2 separate regions of the Homo sapiens genome follow, and region 2 is linked to region 1. The links come from fine-mapping of genetic effects on gene expression. A gene starts in region 1. The other region holds a variant in brackets. All regions are shown on one strand. Distances are between the middles of the regions.

The links. PIP is the estimated chance that this variant, and not a neighbour inherited with it, causes the effect.
Region 2: its variant is fine-mapped to the expression of MAPRE1 in sun-exposed skin (GTEx, PIP above 0.99).

The regions. Positions count from the first base shown.
Region 1 is chr20:32,816,129-32,824,466 of GRCh38, reverse strand. It overlaps MAPRE1 (microtubule associated protein RP/EB family member 1), which reads right to left and starts at 4,513. Exons shown (of 7, transcript NM_012325.3): 1 at 4,439-4,513. RefSeq lists enhancers at 2,795-3,464, 3,465-4,134 and a silencer at 4,207-4,796.
Region 2 is chr20:32,846,534-32,854,871 of GRCh38, reverse strand. MAPRE1 (microtubule associated protein RP/EB family member 1) reads right to left here. Exons shown (of 7, transcript NM_012325.3): 6 at 8,102-8,254; 7 at 4,467-6,200. The coding sequence ends at 6,144. Among named protein-coding and RNA genes, the nearest start is that of EFCAB8, 8.2 kb to the left of the region's middle. The variant T/C (reference allele first, on the strand shown) is at 3,724.

The DNA.
Region 1 (8,338 bases):
TCCCTCATTTTACAGGTGAGGACAAGAGAGGCCCTGGGGTTGGCAGGCAAGCCTGCCCAGCCCCAGCCTCCACATTCTCTTCCCTCCCTTTTCTGCTAGGCTTTCAAATTCAAAACAATAAACACACAGCAATGAGTCTAATTTTCAAATGCTAGTAAATGTGGGCGTTATTGTCTATGAGCACCAGTGTAGTCAACCGTCACTCATTCTACAAATGTTTACTAGCTCTACCGCGTGCTAGGCACTGTTCTAGGGACCAGGATACAGAAAAGCAAGAGACAAGGTGCCTGTCCACAGGGAGTTCACATTCTAGTGGTGCAAAGTCTGACACTGACCAAATACACCAACAAACATCATTTCATACCAACCACTTATGCAACGGGGTTTACGGAATGTGGTCAGAGGAAGCCTCTCTGAGATGAACAGTTGAGCTTAAGGATCAGAGAAAGAAGCAACCACATGAAGCTCTAGAGATAGGGCTCTCCAGCCCAGTGAGCAAGGAGAGCAGAGCCTGAGGTGGGAACAGAAGGAGTTAGGATTTTATTCTATTAAGAAATCCACTGTTGGGTTTGTTTTTTGAGGCAGGGTGTCACTCTGTCACCCAGGCTGGAGTGCAATGCCACAATCACGGCTCACTGCAGCCCTGACTTCCCAGGCTCAAGCCATCCTCTTGACTCATCTTCCCAAGTAGCTGGGACTACAGATGGTCACCACCAAGCCCAGCTAATTTTTTAATTTTTTGTAGAGACCAGGTCTCATTTTGCGGCCCAGCCTCAAACAATCCTCCGCCTCAGCCTCCCAAGGTGCTGGGATTACAGGCATGAGCCACCACACCCAGGCACTTTCAGGTTTTAAGTGCGGTAGAATCTTGCTCTCATTACAGTTTGAAAAAGATCACATTGACTACTAGTAGAGAACAGACAGTAGGGAGGGAAGACTCAAGATAAAGGCAGGCTAATCCAGATCTAAATCAAATCCCTGAGCAGTCACCATGAGGACACACTATGAAATACCAGAGACTTCATAGTGACCTAGACACTTAACAATTTTCTTCATTTCATAAGACAGCAACATTACCAGTGGGGAGGGGCAGGGGAAAGATGCAGAGCAATCTGGAACAATCCTGAGATCCCAGCCCCTTGCTCTCTTACGGTACTTCGTTCCCTCCACCTAGTGACTAGAGTTGGTCTTTCCACATCAGTCTCCTGCACTAAGCTGCTGCAAGCCTCCTGACTCACCAAGCCACAGAATGTGACAGCCAGAAGAGGCAAATCCACCCATCCAGTCCCCTTTTTATGGGGTGACTGAGGTCTGTAGAGGTCAATAACTTGCCAGGTCTGCGTGCCCTCACATCTCCCAGGCACCTCATAGTATCTTGCACATAGCAAGCACTCACTACTTATTTTCAGGTTGGCAGAACAGCGTCAAAGAGAGAAAAATGTGTCTATATAAACTTGTCAGAAAGCAAATCATCAACACTGTTACACTCCCCAAATCAGCTGATAAAACCATGTTATGCAAGACACCAACACAATTTAGTTACTGACTCCACTGGGAAATTAATCCCTATGTTTCCAGAGCAATTCATTCAAACCTTTATGATAGGAAGTCCCACAATGAATTGTCATTATCTCGTTATTTCTGAACCATTCTCGAGCCAGATTTGGGCCAGGAAGCAATCCACTCGATGCAAACAGCTGAGGATTTCAAGCCAGGAGGACATGGGTTTGAATGTGAGGCAGTCACTCATTAGTTGTGTGATCTTAGGCAAGTTACTTAAACTCAATGTACCTCAGTTCCCTTACAAGTTAAAGCCACCTATCTGAAAAGGGTCATAGAAGGGTTTAAATTAGATAAGGTACATAAAATATTTGGCATGGCATCAAATTTAAGAGGTATTTAACAAACAAGATGTAGGGTAGGGACCTTGTCTCACTCATCCTCCTATCTCCAATGCCAAAAACAGTGCGCCTGAGACCTGCCAGCACCATCTTGCACGGAGATGCACTGCAACAGTCTTCAAATTTGTCTGTGTCAATCTGTTCTTACACAGCAAACCAGAGAGAATTTCCTGAATCACAAATCACAGCAAGTGCCTCCCTTGTTTAAAATCCTTGAATGAACAAAATACTGTGCGCAAAATCAGGTACCAGAGACATTCAAACAAAAAAGACATGGTCCCAGCTGAGCAATTGTAATCTATTATGGCGACATTCCTATATATACTGTATCGTGTGCATCATGCTGCTATAAAATCTAAGCAGCTGGTAAAGCCATGTGTGTCTCCTGACCACACCCCAGCTCAAAAAACATTAATGGCCTTTCATCATCATATAATTTAAAACTTTCATTAGCAGTACATTAATACCTGGTCCCACGTGCTCCACAAACGCTGCAGCCACTAAATACATGGATTAGGCACCCTGTGGATGTACAATGAACATCCACCGACTCAATCAATTAATTGGCTCCTCCTGACAATCAAAACAGAGCTCCAGCTCACCCTTCCTTCACAATTCCATCATTGGCAGCCATGGAAGACCCATGACTACCACACAAATCTCACCCTTACAAGGCTTCCTGATCCAGGTTTCCACCACCACCATGAAAAAGCTCCCTCAAACCTACCCAGGAATCTCTCTTCCTTCAGCAGCTCTCCTAGCAAGATCCCAAACCTATACAAATTCAACGCTGGCTCTAAAGCACTCTATTACTTTCAAGGCACCACAATAAGCCCTATGTAAAGTGGGGGAAGGAGGTGCCACCAGAAAGGACCTATGTGACCGTGGGCAAGTCACTTAATCTTCCTGCATCACAAATGGCTCATCCTGTAAAATGGGTAAAACAGTATCTCTGCACAAAGTGGTGGTAAGGATTAAACAAAAATCTACATGAAAACACTTAAGCAAAAGGCACATCACGTCCTAAGCTTCCCTCTGTGCCAAAAACTGTGCTAGGCACTTTGACGCACCACCACAAAGGGCACATCTGGATGTGTAGCTCTGGACCTCAGGGAGAAAGTGTAATAAAGAGGTTAAGAGCCTAGACACTGAAGTCCCAGGTGGGGGTTCAGCCACTTGCTGGGCTGCATAAGACACTCCGCCTCTCAGAGTCTCAGACCCCTTATTTGTAAAATGAAAGTAATCTCTCTTGCCAGGCGCGGTGGCTCACACCTGTAATCCCAACACTTTGGAGGCCGAGGCGGACAGATCACTTGAGGTCAGGAGTTCGACAACAGCCTGGCCAACATGGCGAAACCTCGTCTCTACTAAAAAATACAACAATTAGCCGGGCTTGGTGGCGCGCGCCTGTAATCCCGACTACTCGGGAGGCTGAGGCACGAGAATCGCTTGAACCCGGGAGGCGGAGGTTGCAGTGAGCGATGGTGCCACTGCACGCCTGGGCAACAGAATAAAACTCTGTCTCAAAAAAAAAAAAAAAAGGAAGAAGAGAATCTCTCTTAAAGACAGTGTTAGTATTAAAAGACACAAAGCCACATGGAGCACTTAACAGTGCTTGACACAAAACAAGTGCCCAACTAACAAAGAGCTGCTATTATCATTACTACTGTTAGAGACATGCCATCGGAGAAGCGGATGCCCGGCCTAGCATAACCTCCCTCAATGGGCCCCAGGATCCTCATCCCCAAAATGGGGCAGAGGTCAAGCTCTGCCCTGCAGCATCCGAGGGCAACTGTGAAGTAGGGACTGAACTAGCACTGTTGATACCATCCCGTTATACTGTCCTCCTGCTCATCATAATGTGGATTCCTGGAGAGCAAATCTTTGTTCCCGGGAAAACAGCCAGGGTTTAGCACGGTGCCCAACACCTAGTGGGCATTCAATAAACACACACTGAAGAAAGGAGGGAGTCCAAGAGCTGGCTTACTTTCTGCCATACATCGCGCTAAGAGTTTAATGTGGGTAGTATTACTGTCCCCGTTTTACAGATGAGGAAGCTGAGATCCACAGCGGTTAAAGCACCTGTCCAAGGTCACACCGCACGGAACCCAACCCAGGTCTGACTCCACCACCCGATCTCTCGGCCCTCAGGCAACACGGCCTCCCACAATGTGCGTCCCCAGAGCTCCCAGGACGGCCCACCTCGCCCACACCCTCCCAGGGCCCAACCACCCTGGGACCTCCAGTCGCTGCAGCGCAGGGACCACACCTCAGCGGCGGCCCAGAAACCCCCACCCCGCGTAGCAGCAGCCCACTTCCGGCCCGAGACCCCGCCCCCTGAGCAGAGCGCAGCGCGCGCCCCCAGGCCCAGCCCGCGCGCGCCGGGTGACGGCCCCGCCCTTCCCCCACCCGGCTCGAACAGCACCGCCGTGTGGAACGGCCCTGGCGCTGCCCGTAGGGCCTGCCCGCGCACGCCCGGCCTTGGCCCACGCGGCCGCCCCCCCAGCCGCACCCCCCGGGCCCGCTAGCCGGCTCACCGGCTCTCGGCAGAACCGCGTCCACTGCCCGCAACCGGCTCCGGTTCCGTCTTCGTCTCGTTCAAACCGCCAGACCCCGCCCGCCCGCCCGCGCGATGACCTCACACGCACCCCCTCGTTACGCGCCGACGTAAAGGCTCGCCATCCTCCGCCGGCTCCTTTTATAGAGAGGGTCTCAGCCGCGCGCCGGGGGCGGAGCTCGGCCCCTGATCCACAGAACGGTAGCCGAGGGGCGGGGCCCCGACCGCCGGGGCGACTGCGGCACGTGGTCGGTCGCAGCCAATGAGGTCCCGCCTCGGCCCGGTGTGACTCAGTTACAAAATCCCTATGGCAGTAACCAAAAAGAAAATTGCTTTTACAATGAATTTTTTTTTTTTTTTGCTTAGAGATGTATGGAGGTCTCGCTGTGTTGCCCAGGGTGGTCTCGAACTCTTGGCCTCAAGCGATCCTCCCGCCTTAGCCTCCCAAAGCGCTGGGATAACAGGCGTGAGCCACCGCTCCCAGGCTTACAATTAATTTCTGTAAGAATGGGTTATTGAATCATAAAGATACCTAATAGACACTTTGGGGAAACGCTTAGAAGTCAACTTTCTGGGCCGGGTGCAGTGGCTCACGCCTTTAATCCCAGCACTTTGGGAGGCCCAGGTGGGAGGATCACCTGAGGTCAGGAGTTTGAGACCAGCCTGGCCAACATAGTGAAACCCCATCTCTACTAAAAATACAAAAATTAGCCTGGCGTGGTGGTGGGCGCCTGTAATTCCAGCTACTTGGGAAGCTGAGGCAGGAGAATCACTTGAACCCAGGAGACGGAGGTGGCAGTGAGGCGAGACTGCACCACTGCACTCCAGTCTGGGCGACAGAGCAAGACTCTGTCTCAAAAAAAAAAAAAAAAAGTCACGTTCTGTGACGCCCCCGCCCCCCCATCTGCAATATCATGCGGCATATTTTCTTCTTAGTACCATAAGAAGGCATCTTGTGCCTTTACTGTCTGTCTCCTGTAAAGTCCACAGGAGCAAGGACCTCCTGAGTCCTGTTCCGGGTTGTTTCCCAATGGCTGTACATACATTCTCTCTTGCCCACTCCCTCTTTTTTTTTTTTTTTTTTTTAAGAGATGGGGTCTTGCCATGTTGCCCAGGCTGGGCTGGTCTCCTGGGCTCGAGAGATCCACCCGCATCGGCCTCCCAAAGTGCTGGGATTACAGGCGTGAGCCACCACACCTGGCCCTTACATTCTCAAGAGAGCCTTGGCTGAAGGAGGAACTGGGCTGGGCGTGGTGGCTCACACCTGTAATCCCAACACTTTGGGAGGCCAAGGCGGATGAATTACCTGAGGTCAGGAGTTGGAAACCAGCCTGTCCAACATGGCGAAACCCCATCTCTACTAAAAATGCAAAACTTAGCCGGGCATGGTGGTGGGCGCCTGTAATCCCAGCTACTTGGGAGGCTGAGGCAGGAGAATCACTTGAACCTGGGAGGCAGAGGTTGCAGTCAGACTTCGTCTAAAAAAGAAAAAAAGAGGAACTGCACCACTTTACAGCAGAAAGAAACTGAGGGACAAAGAGGCCAATTGACTCACTCAGTGTCAGAGGTAGATCCAGATTTCAAGCTGACTTTTTTTGTCTGGGTATCATTTATTCAAGTATTCAACAAATATTTTCCCTGACCAATCAGGCCCTGGTGAAAAAAAGACACAATCTGATCATGGTGGTACGTGCCTTTAGTTCCAGCTACTGGGAAGGCTGGGGCAGGAGGATCGCTTGAGCCCAGGAGTTCGAGGCTGCAGTGAGCAAAGATCACGCCACTGCACTCCAGGCCTGGGAAACAGAGTGAAACTCCATCTCTAAGAGATAAAAACGAAAACTAGACACAGCTTCTGACCTCTTAAAGTTTCCAGACTGGCAGGGGAGGCAAAGGGGACACAACTAATGACACAAATCCTTGTTAAATTACAAATCAGGCTCAATGCTAGGCAGGGACATTATGTGGTGGGCTGATGGTACTTCCACTGTGTGGAGCAGGGGCCTAGAGGTCCCTCTAGGCCAAATCTCACCCAGTTAGTTGCTGAAACCCAGTAAGACGTTCAGGGAAGAATGGGTGGGGAAGCTGGGGCAGGAGCTGTTTATCAGCAGGTCTAGAGGCATTTCAATACTTCGGTCTCGAGTACTGCTCCAAGAGCACACCACAAGAGACATGACCTCTCCTAGGTAGTGTGGAAAAGCTTCCCAGAAATGACACTTACCATGAAAGATGAGGAGTTACCTTGGCAAAAGAGTTTGAGCAAGGCCAGTTGTGGTGGCTCATGCCTGTAATCCCAGCACTTTGGGAGGCCGAGGTGGGCGGATCACGAGGTCAAGAGTCTGAGACTAGCCTGACCAACGTGGTGAAACCCCGTCTCTACTAAAAATGCAAAAATTAGTTGGGCGTGGTGGCGCGCGCCTGTAATCCCAGCTACTTGGGAGGATGGAGCAGGAGAATTGGTTGAACCCAGGAGGTGGAGGTTGCAGTGAGCTGAGATCGTGCCACTGCACTCCCGCCTGGGTGATAGAGCAAGACTCTGTCTCAAAGAAAAAAAAAAAACAGAGTTTGAGCAAAAAAAGGCAAGAAAAGCCAGGCGCGGTGGCTCGTGCCTGTAATTCCAGCACTTCGGAAGGCTGAGGTCGGCAAATCACGAGGTCAGGAGTTGGAGAACAGCCTGGCCAACATGGTGAAACCCCGTCTCTACTAAAAATACAAAAATTAGCTGGGCATGGTGGCGGACACCTATAATCCCAACTACTCGAGAGGCTCAGGCAGGAGAATTGCTTGAACCCAGGAGGTGGACGTTGCAATGAGCCGAGATGGCACCATTGCACTCCAGCCTGGGCAAAAGAGCAAGACTCCAACTCAAAAAAAAAAAAAAAAGAAAAGAAAAAGAAAAAAAAAGAGGCAACAATAAAGAATAAAAAACCATGTAACAAATGATTATAGCGACAGCAGTAATATGAACATTATGGTGAGCTGATGTCAAGCATAGATAATCAACTAAAGATATTTATAAGTGCTTTGATGCAACATCTGTTACCTGTATTTTATTTATTTATATTCTTTTTAAAAAACGAAGAAACAGAGACACTCTGTCGCCCAGGCTGGAGTGGAATTGTGTGATCTCGGCTCACTGCAACCTCCGCCTCCTGGGTTCAAGCCATTCTCCTGCCTCAGCCTCCTGAGTAGATGGGATTCCAGGCACACACCACCATGCCCGGCTAATTTTTGTATTTTTAGTAGAGACAGGGTTTCACCATATTGGCCAGGCTGGTCTCAAACTCCTGACCTCGTGATCCGCCCACCTTGGCCTCCTAAAGTGCTGGGATTACAAGCGTGAGCCACCACACCCAGCCACCTCTGTTTTATCCACAAAGACATTAACTTTTCATTAGGCTAAATAATAAACGGCGAAGCCAGTATGTCTGGGTTCAAATTCTGTTAGAATTAAATGGGAAGTGTATAAAGTTATCAGACTGCGCCTAGCACATAGTATGTGCTCAATAAATGTGATTTCTGAGTCCTTTCGTCTAAAGTCAGTTATTAAATTATGTCAATTAATTGGTATCAGCATTACCTGCAGGCCATTTTGGTCTGGAGTGAGGACATTAGTATGGGGGATGAGATCAGTGTAGAAAACCAAATCAGGAAAAGCCTCTAGGCCGGGTGCAGTGGCATGATGGCTCTGTAATCCCAGCACTTTGGGAGGCCAAGGTGGGCGGATCACTTGAGGTCAGGAGTTCGAGACCAGCCTGGCCAATATGGTGAAACCCCATCTCTACTAAAAATACAAAAATTAGCAGGGCATGGTGGCATGCGTCTGTAATCCCAGCTACTCAGGAGGCTAAGGCAGGAGAATCGCTTGAACCAGGGAGGCAGA
Region 2 (8,338 bases), 30 kb before region 1:
AAAAAAACACTCAAAGTAAACCAGGAAAAAACTAAGGTAGAAATTTTTAAAAAGCAAATAAGGCAAGACAAATAGAATTCCAAACTGCATATATATATATAAGATATATATGATCATATATATATATATTATATATATGATCATATATATCTTATATATATTATATATGATCATATATATATATAAAATCTTTTAAATAGAGACAGGGTCTCTTGCTATGTTGCCCAGGCTAGTTTCAAACTCCTGGGCTCAAGCAATCCTTCTGCACTGGCCTCCCAAAGTGCTGGGATTACAGGCATGAGCCATGACACCCAGCCCCAAACTGCTGATAGGTTATTTTACAATTATAAATTTATATCTTGATGCCACTTACAAAGTTCTAGGCATTGGTGGGTAACCTGGTTTGCTTTCAAATGGTCACAGGACAAAGAACTGCCTCCTCACACTCAGAAACGTGTCTATGAAGGCTATTTCCATTTCACATTTCAGAACCTGAGAGCCTCCAATACAAGGAAACGAGAGTTATTTACAATTTTGATACACACACGCACCTCAAGATTTAAGGTTCTAGATTGAGGAGCCTAGAAATTTGACTCTAAGGCTTGACCTGCTCACCTAGATAACCAAATTAATGAAGCTACTGGATACAACCTCAATAGAGTACAGAGAAAGCTTCTGCACTCCAAGGACTAAGGTAACATTACTTCCCAAATCAGATTAAACCAAAGGGGGAACAGACCTTCACAAGTCACGGCTATATAGCAATTTGGGCCAGGCACAGTGACTCACACCTCCCAGCATTTGGGGAGGAAGAGATGGGTAAATTGTTTGAGCCCAGGGGTTCAAGACCAGCCTGCAATATAGCAAACCCCGTCTCTACAAAAAATACCAAAAAATTGGCCGGGCATGGTGGCTCACGCCTGTAATCCCAGCACTTTGGGAGGCCGAGGCAGGTGGATCACCTGAGGTCAGGAGTTCCAGACCAGCCTGGCTAACATGGCAAAACCCCGTCTCTACTAAAAACACAAAAATTAGCTGGGTGTGGTGGTGGGCGCCTGTAATCCCAGCTACTCTCGAGGTTGAGGCAGGAGACTCGCTTGAACCCAGGAGGCGGAGGTTGCAGTGAGCCAAGATGGCACCACTGTACTCCAACCTGGGCAACAAGAATGAAACTCTGTCTCAAAAAAAAAAAAAAAAAAAAAATTAGCCAGCCAGGCATGGTGGTGTGCACTACAGTCCCAGCTACTATGGAGGTTGAGGTGGGAGGACAGCTGAAGCCCAGGAAGTTGAGGCTGTCATGAGCCATGACTGTGCCACTGCACTCCAGCCTGGGTGACAGGAGACCCTGTCTCAAAAAAACAAAAACAAAAACAATACATAATTTGGCTGAAGTCATCTAGGTTAATGGTTCTAACTGCAGTCAAGTTCAATGTAAAAGTACACAATCCCTTCAGGCTTTCAGAGAAAACCCTGAACACTCAGTTATACCCTCGCATGTGAAAATGAAGAGAAAAAAAGCAGCAAGCGTCATGAAGATACAGAAATAAATATGAACTCATCTGGTTTTGACATTTTACAAACTAAATGTGTGAATCCAAAAGTATGATATCAAGCAGGGAGTGGTGGCTCACACCTGTAATCCCAGCACTTTGGGAGGCCAAGACAGGTGGATCACTTGAGGCCAGGAGTTCGAGACTACCTTGGGCAACATGGCAAAACTCCATCTCTACTGAAAATACAAAAATTAGCCAGGCATAGTGGCACAGGCCTGTAATCCCAGCTACTCAGGAGGCTGAGGTACGGGAACTGCTTCAGCCTGGGAGGTGGAGGTTGCAGTGAGCCAAGATCGTGCCACTGCACTCCAGCCTGGGTGACAGAGCAAGACTGTCTGGGGAAAAAAAAAAAAAAAAAAAAAAGACATATTACAACAGTGCCAGACCAGAAAAATGACGGGTGGTTCACAACACTGATCACAGACTGAGGTTCAGCTTGTTTCAAAGCAATGTTCTCTGTTGTCAACAATCAGATTTGGGTCACCCACATGCTAGCAAGCTAATCTGACTAGGCTGATCAGGCCTAAAGCTTGGATTTTTATTTGTGGACTTTGCAATGAACTATGGTCAACATCACAAAAGGAGTCCTTTATACTCAATCTTCTAAAACAATCCTTAAAAGAAAAACTACAGAGGATCACCTTGGCTAGGGCAAAAGAAAAATGCTTCCTTTTCAAAACCCTTCACATTCTAGAGAGTAAATCTTGAAGAAAATATGGGTTTTTAATCAATGAATCTGAGACATTGAATCTTCATTTAAAAGAAAACAAAAACAGGATAAACATAAGAGCCTGAAGACATAAGGGAGTTCTACTTGTCCATATACCATGCTGAAAAGGAAATACTTTGGGTGTATTTTACAAAACACCCAAAGCCTGTCTGAAGGAATGCCCTTCCGAATTCTGAGGATACAAAAGCCCTGTCCTAAGCTTTTTCTAATCTATAAACAGAATTTCAGACCAGATCTGAAGAACTTGTGCCATAAATAATGCCTCTTGTCTGTACAGAGCTTTTTAGCTTTGTGGTGCTGTTTTTTTTTGGTCCATCAGCTCCTTCTAATCCCAACAAGTACCCAGTGAGGGAGGCACGTCAGCCAAAATCATCATCTCTGTCTTGCATGTAAGAACAAGAGAGGTCAAATAGCTCAAAACTCACAAAGCAGGAGAGACCTGCAAGAGGACTCAAGTCTGATGTTCCCCTTGCCAGAATTATTATTTAAAATTGCAGACATGTAGATAAGGCCCAAATTAAAATGCAGGTTTTCAACCTCCAAACTCAGAATCTCTGGTGATGAATTTTTATAAATACATTATGTCAAACAAGTTCCCCATGTGATTCTGAAGCCCATCAGTTTGAGAATCATCAGCATGAACAATGATCCAAATTGAGCCAGAGAACCCATTTGTTTACCTATCCTTCATGAAACACAGAACCTGCCAAGCAAACCAAGCAGCAAAGACTGTATGTGCTTCAAATTCAAGAGCCAGGTCAATGCACTTGGTCAGATACCCACAGTTTTGGCTTCTCTCTTTACCAAGGTAACTTCTCAATTGACAGTAGCCAACAGTATCTTCACAAACTCCTTGCACTCCTGGAAGGTATCTTCTTGTAGATGACCAATACATATGGTGTCAAATTCCTTCTGAAGGTATTTAACACTTTAAGGGAGGTATCATACCATTAACTATGGGTGCAACCCTTGTCAAGATCATCAGGTTGGGTTTATAGAGCATCCATAACCATGACTCTACATATCCTACAACACACTATCTCTGCCCATTTAACTTTATTTCTGACAGAAAATGGCAGCAAGTCTCCTTTTGAACTCATTTCTAATAGCATATAATTTTATAAGGGAGAAAAAAATGGTGACAATTTTAGATTATTTTATAGATTAAGATCATGTTAACTGACTTTGAAACATACTTTCAGGGCTGGGTGCAGTGGCTCACACCTGTAATCCCAGCACTTTAGGAGGTCAAGGTGGGAGGATCACTTGAGCCCAGGAGTTCAAGACAAGCCTGGGCAACATAAGGGGACCCCATCTCTACAAAAAATACAAAGTTTAGCTGGGCATGGTGGTGCATGCCTGTAGTCCCCACTACTCACGAGGCTGAGGTGGGAGGATCGCTTGAACCCAAGAGGGCAAGGCTGCAGTGAGCCAAGATCA[T/C]GCCACTGCACTCCAGACTGGGCAACAGAGGGAGACCCTGTCTCAAAAAAGAAAGGAAGAAAGAATCACACCTTCAGAAAAAAAAAAAAAAAAAATCTCCCCACAGTCATCTGCCAAGCACTGTCCTGCTATATTTCTCAGAAGGAAATGCCCTGAAAAGGCTTCACAGCAGATAGGCCAGGCCTTGGACTTCCGAGAGGAAAAACCTCTTACAGCAACGAGAATTTTAAAAAGCAGGAGGCTGTACAATATAATGTGAATGAAGAAAAAAGAAGTCAGCTTAGAAATAAGCACATCTGACCGAGCACGGTGGCTTACGCCTGTAATCCCAGCACTTTGGGAGGCTGAGGTGGGTGGACCACGAGGTCAGGAGTTCAAGATCAGCCTGGCCAAGATGGTGAAACCCCATCTCTACTAAAAATACACAAAAATTAGCCGGGCGTGGTGGTGGGTGCCTATAATCCCAGCTACTTGGGAGGCTGAGGCAGAGAACTGTTTGAACCTGGGAGGCAGAGGTTGCAGTGAGCCGAGATCATGCCACTGCACTCCAGCCTGGGCGACAGACCAAGACTCCATCTCAAAAAAAAAAAAAAAAAAAAGAAGAAGAAGAAGAAATAAGCACATCTGAAAAATCAGTAAAGGATGTGAAAAGATCAGTCCTCACTGAAGAAAGAAGCACTGGTTTCCCATCACTTGAACCTAACAGCATATACCCAGGGCAAGACAAATTTCAGAAGACATGATACTCTTGAAATACAGAATTTTATTTAGAAACTGTTTAAAGTAGAAAAAAACCCTGTCAAGAAAGACCAGGTGGAAAATGGGTTCCCAATAAAATGGAATTTTAGGGCAACAAAAGTCTAAAAGGCCACAAAAGAGAAATAGCACCACTGTCATTTGAACAATGGCTAGTTACTTGCATTTTTTGGCATTGTTAATCACTGAATCTGGGTTTTCCTCTGAATTCCACACAGAGCATGCACTACACAACATTTTTATCATAAAATACTTGCTTTCTACACACATTTCAGGACAAGCTACCACCAGAAACAAATCAATACAAATACATCAGGGGCTGAACAATCTCAGTAGTGGGTGAGACACATTTTGCAGAATCCTGCCAAACAAAGGAACTGAATAGGCTGTGGGCAAAGCAAATGAGGGAGAGTTAAGGAATGAAGTATTTTAAATATTAATAATTAATTCAGACACGGTACTGTATTTTCCGCAAAAGAAAATTAACATTTAGTAACACACTAATGAATTTTATCTCCAAAGAGATTAGTGCACTGGCAAAGTATTCGGATTACAGTGGAGAGCTGTGAACAGCAGATACCGAAAACACCCCAGCCTGGCAGATCCCAAGGTAACGATGGCCTTCACTGACCACTCCCTTTGCCAGAGGTCCAGAAAGAACTTGCAGCATGATCACCTGCCTGCTGCACTTCCAACTCTAAGCAGCAAACTTCAAGGAGCCAAAGAGGAGTCCCCAGTGGGCAAGGGGAGCAGAGAAGAGAAACGTGGTAAATGTAAACCTAAAAGACAGTAAAATGGGATACAATCCCCATTCAAATCCCAGAGATGTGGGCAAGTCCCCAAAAGTAGTTGTTAGATTAAAAAACTGGGCACACCTCACTTCCCCAAAAAATATAATACATAGAAATTTCGGGGATAACTGGAAAAATAGAGAAATGCTCAATGAAAACCAAGCTCTTCAACTGTAACATCTCAGGGCTGAAACACATCCTCTATTATCCAGGCAACGATGCCTCTTGCTTTTTAGCTGGGATGCAATTGGTCAATGACACCAAATAACTTTACAGGGCAACTTTTTAAATGTTCCTTTTAGACCAAAGCCTAGGCCTATGAGGGTTCAAGCAGCCCTGTAAGACCTGTTGACAGCAGGTTCCAAAGGTTCCAAGGTCTGGCCCTTCCTTCCCAGACACAATGTCAAACGCAAAATCTCTTGTCATGTTACATTTTATATTTTGAAATGTGGAAGCATATTTTAAATACTCTTAAGGCATTTACTTATTACAACATTCTCTGATTTCACATTAGCTTAAAATTCAATTCAGTCTTTACATTTCTCCACTGAGGTCGCCACCTCAGCATATTACATAACATCTCTCCAGCATTCAGTGTGACCCGCATCCGCATGGTGAGCCCCACGGTCAGCCTCTCTGTTTTCCAGGTGAACCAACTAGGTGTTAATACTGCTCTGCTACAAGGTAAAAGCTCCTAACTCAAACTTATTGGAAAAGGAGTGAAACGTCTGCAAAGTGCACTTTAAGAAGAGGTACTTTTTGCTTATGAAAAGAAACCAGTGAGTCCTCTAAGGATAACAAAAGGGAGTATTTTACAGTTAAGCACATGATTTGGAGTGAAGAATTCCGATGTTGCTCTGCTGGTCCAGGCTGTTAATACTCTTCTTGCTCCTCCTGTGGGCCCCCTTCATCAGGTATCACAAAGCCTTCCTGAAATAGGAAAATGAGAGGGGAAAGCCACTGAAAGATCCATTTCTACTGTGAGTTCACTTTCCTCATACTTACAGCCTCTTAAAAACAATGGTTCTTCCTGGCTCTATACAGGCCAGGTGACTGCTATTTTATTTCTTGGGTAGTAGAATTGCATCTCACCAAAGACAAAAACTGAGCACAGTCAAATTTACCCTCAAACTTTTGAAAGTGATGCATATTTACATTGTCTTCATTATGGTGGTAATTTCACCCATGTCATCAAAGGTACATTTTAAATATGTGCAGTTTATTATGTCAGTTATACTTCAATAAAACTGTTTTTTAAAGAAGAAAGAAGGCCAGGTGTGATGGCTCATGCCTGTAATCCTAGCACTTTGGAAGGCCAAGGCTTGAGCCCAGAAGTTCAAGACCAGCCTGGGTAACACAGTGAGACAATGTCTCGAAAAAAAAAAAAACTAGCCAAGCCTGGTGGGACATGCCTGTAGTCCCAGCTACTCCCCAGCGGGGTCGAGGCAGGACTGCTTGACCCAGGAGGTCAAAGCTGCAGTGAGCCATGATCGCACCACCAGGCACTCCAGCCTGGGCAATAAAGTGAGATCCCCGTCACTAAAAAAAAAAAAAAATTTCCCTCAAAAATTCCTGAAGTCCCCTGTAAAGTTCAGTACTCTAACATCTTCTCTCAATAAACTGTCTATGCAGCCAGCTTTCCTTTTATGCCTTCCTTTTGTTATACTTAGGAGCCATGCTTTACCCAAAATATTCACAACAGCAAGACTGACCCAACATCAGTGGCAGAAAAATTGAGTGCACAAGGAAAAAGCAGATTCATGACTCCCACACACCTCATTCTCACTACAGGGCATTCTGGCATGGACTCAGAGCAGGAAATTACTATACTATTCTGCTGTAAAATCAGACTTCTCTTTCAACCACCATCTTATTTCTATTAACTAAATCTCTATAGCTGAACTTACTTAAGATGTGGCTCCACTAAAATAATACTCAGACTAAACCAAGGACCCCCTATATCTTCGTTGTCTTTTTTTCATTACATAGCACAGAGCAAGCTCTAAATTAAAGATTTATTCAACAGATTATCAACTTTTCAGTCATCTGTCTTAATCCCCTGAAATTCACAAGATATGTCTCAAGGACAGTGACAGTAACAGCATTATTACTACCTTGTATTTGCATAGTGCTACACATACTACCAGAAGTTTGTAGTTTGATCCTACAGACCTTGCTAGGCACACAGAATTACAAACATCACCATTAAACAGTGGACACAGCCGGATAACAATCCTAAATCTAGAAAAAAATGAGTCTTCCCTGATCAACTAACATGTCGTGATTAATATCAACAGATTTGACTGTGCAATAAACATGGATCCAAAGAAACTTGATCATAGAGTACTTTGAGGGAGTGAGAACCAGGCAAACTCCTAGGAGGGAGGAGAAAGGCATACCCAGACATGACGTGATATGTGGGCACGCCGTGAAAAAGGGAGCATGTGCCTGCTTTTCCGGGCATGCCCCGGGCCCTGATAAAATGGAGGCAGCAACTGAAGCTGAGGGATCCAAGCAATAGGAGGTGGGGTGGAGTGAGGACATGGGTTGCTTCTGGCTAAGAGCAGTTTGTGGCACTCATCACCTATCAGTGGCCACATACTACAGATGCTGGGCAAGCCAGCCACCTCCTTGTCCTATTCCTTCTTCAAAAGCTCACAGACCTCAGGCAGAAGCTAAAGCTGGGCAGAGATGCCCTCTGGCTGACTTTGAGGGGTTAAAGATGAAGTCTTTTGATGAATGCAACACTGGAATACAACAAGCATCAGCACAGAGTTCACCAACCCTTCTATGTAAAATGGAAAGAAAATATCCTCATGTCAAACACATACATCTGTGGCATACAGAATGTCTACAATCCTCTGCAATACAGGGTCGTTTTCCCCCTCGTTCTCCTGGCAAATCAATTCAATGTTCCGTAGCTTTCCGAAGTAGAAATCCCTCTCTTTCTCCAAGTCTTCAACAGTAAGTTTCAATACGTTGACCTGCACAAGACATTAAAAAGGGTGAGATGCTTGGCATTAGTATGGCAATAAAATATCAGGCAGACTTCTAACCCAAAAGGAGAT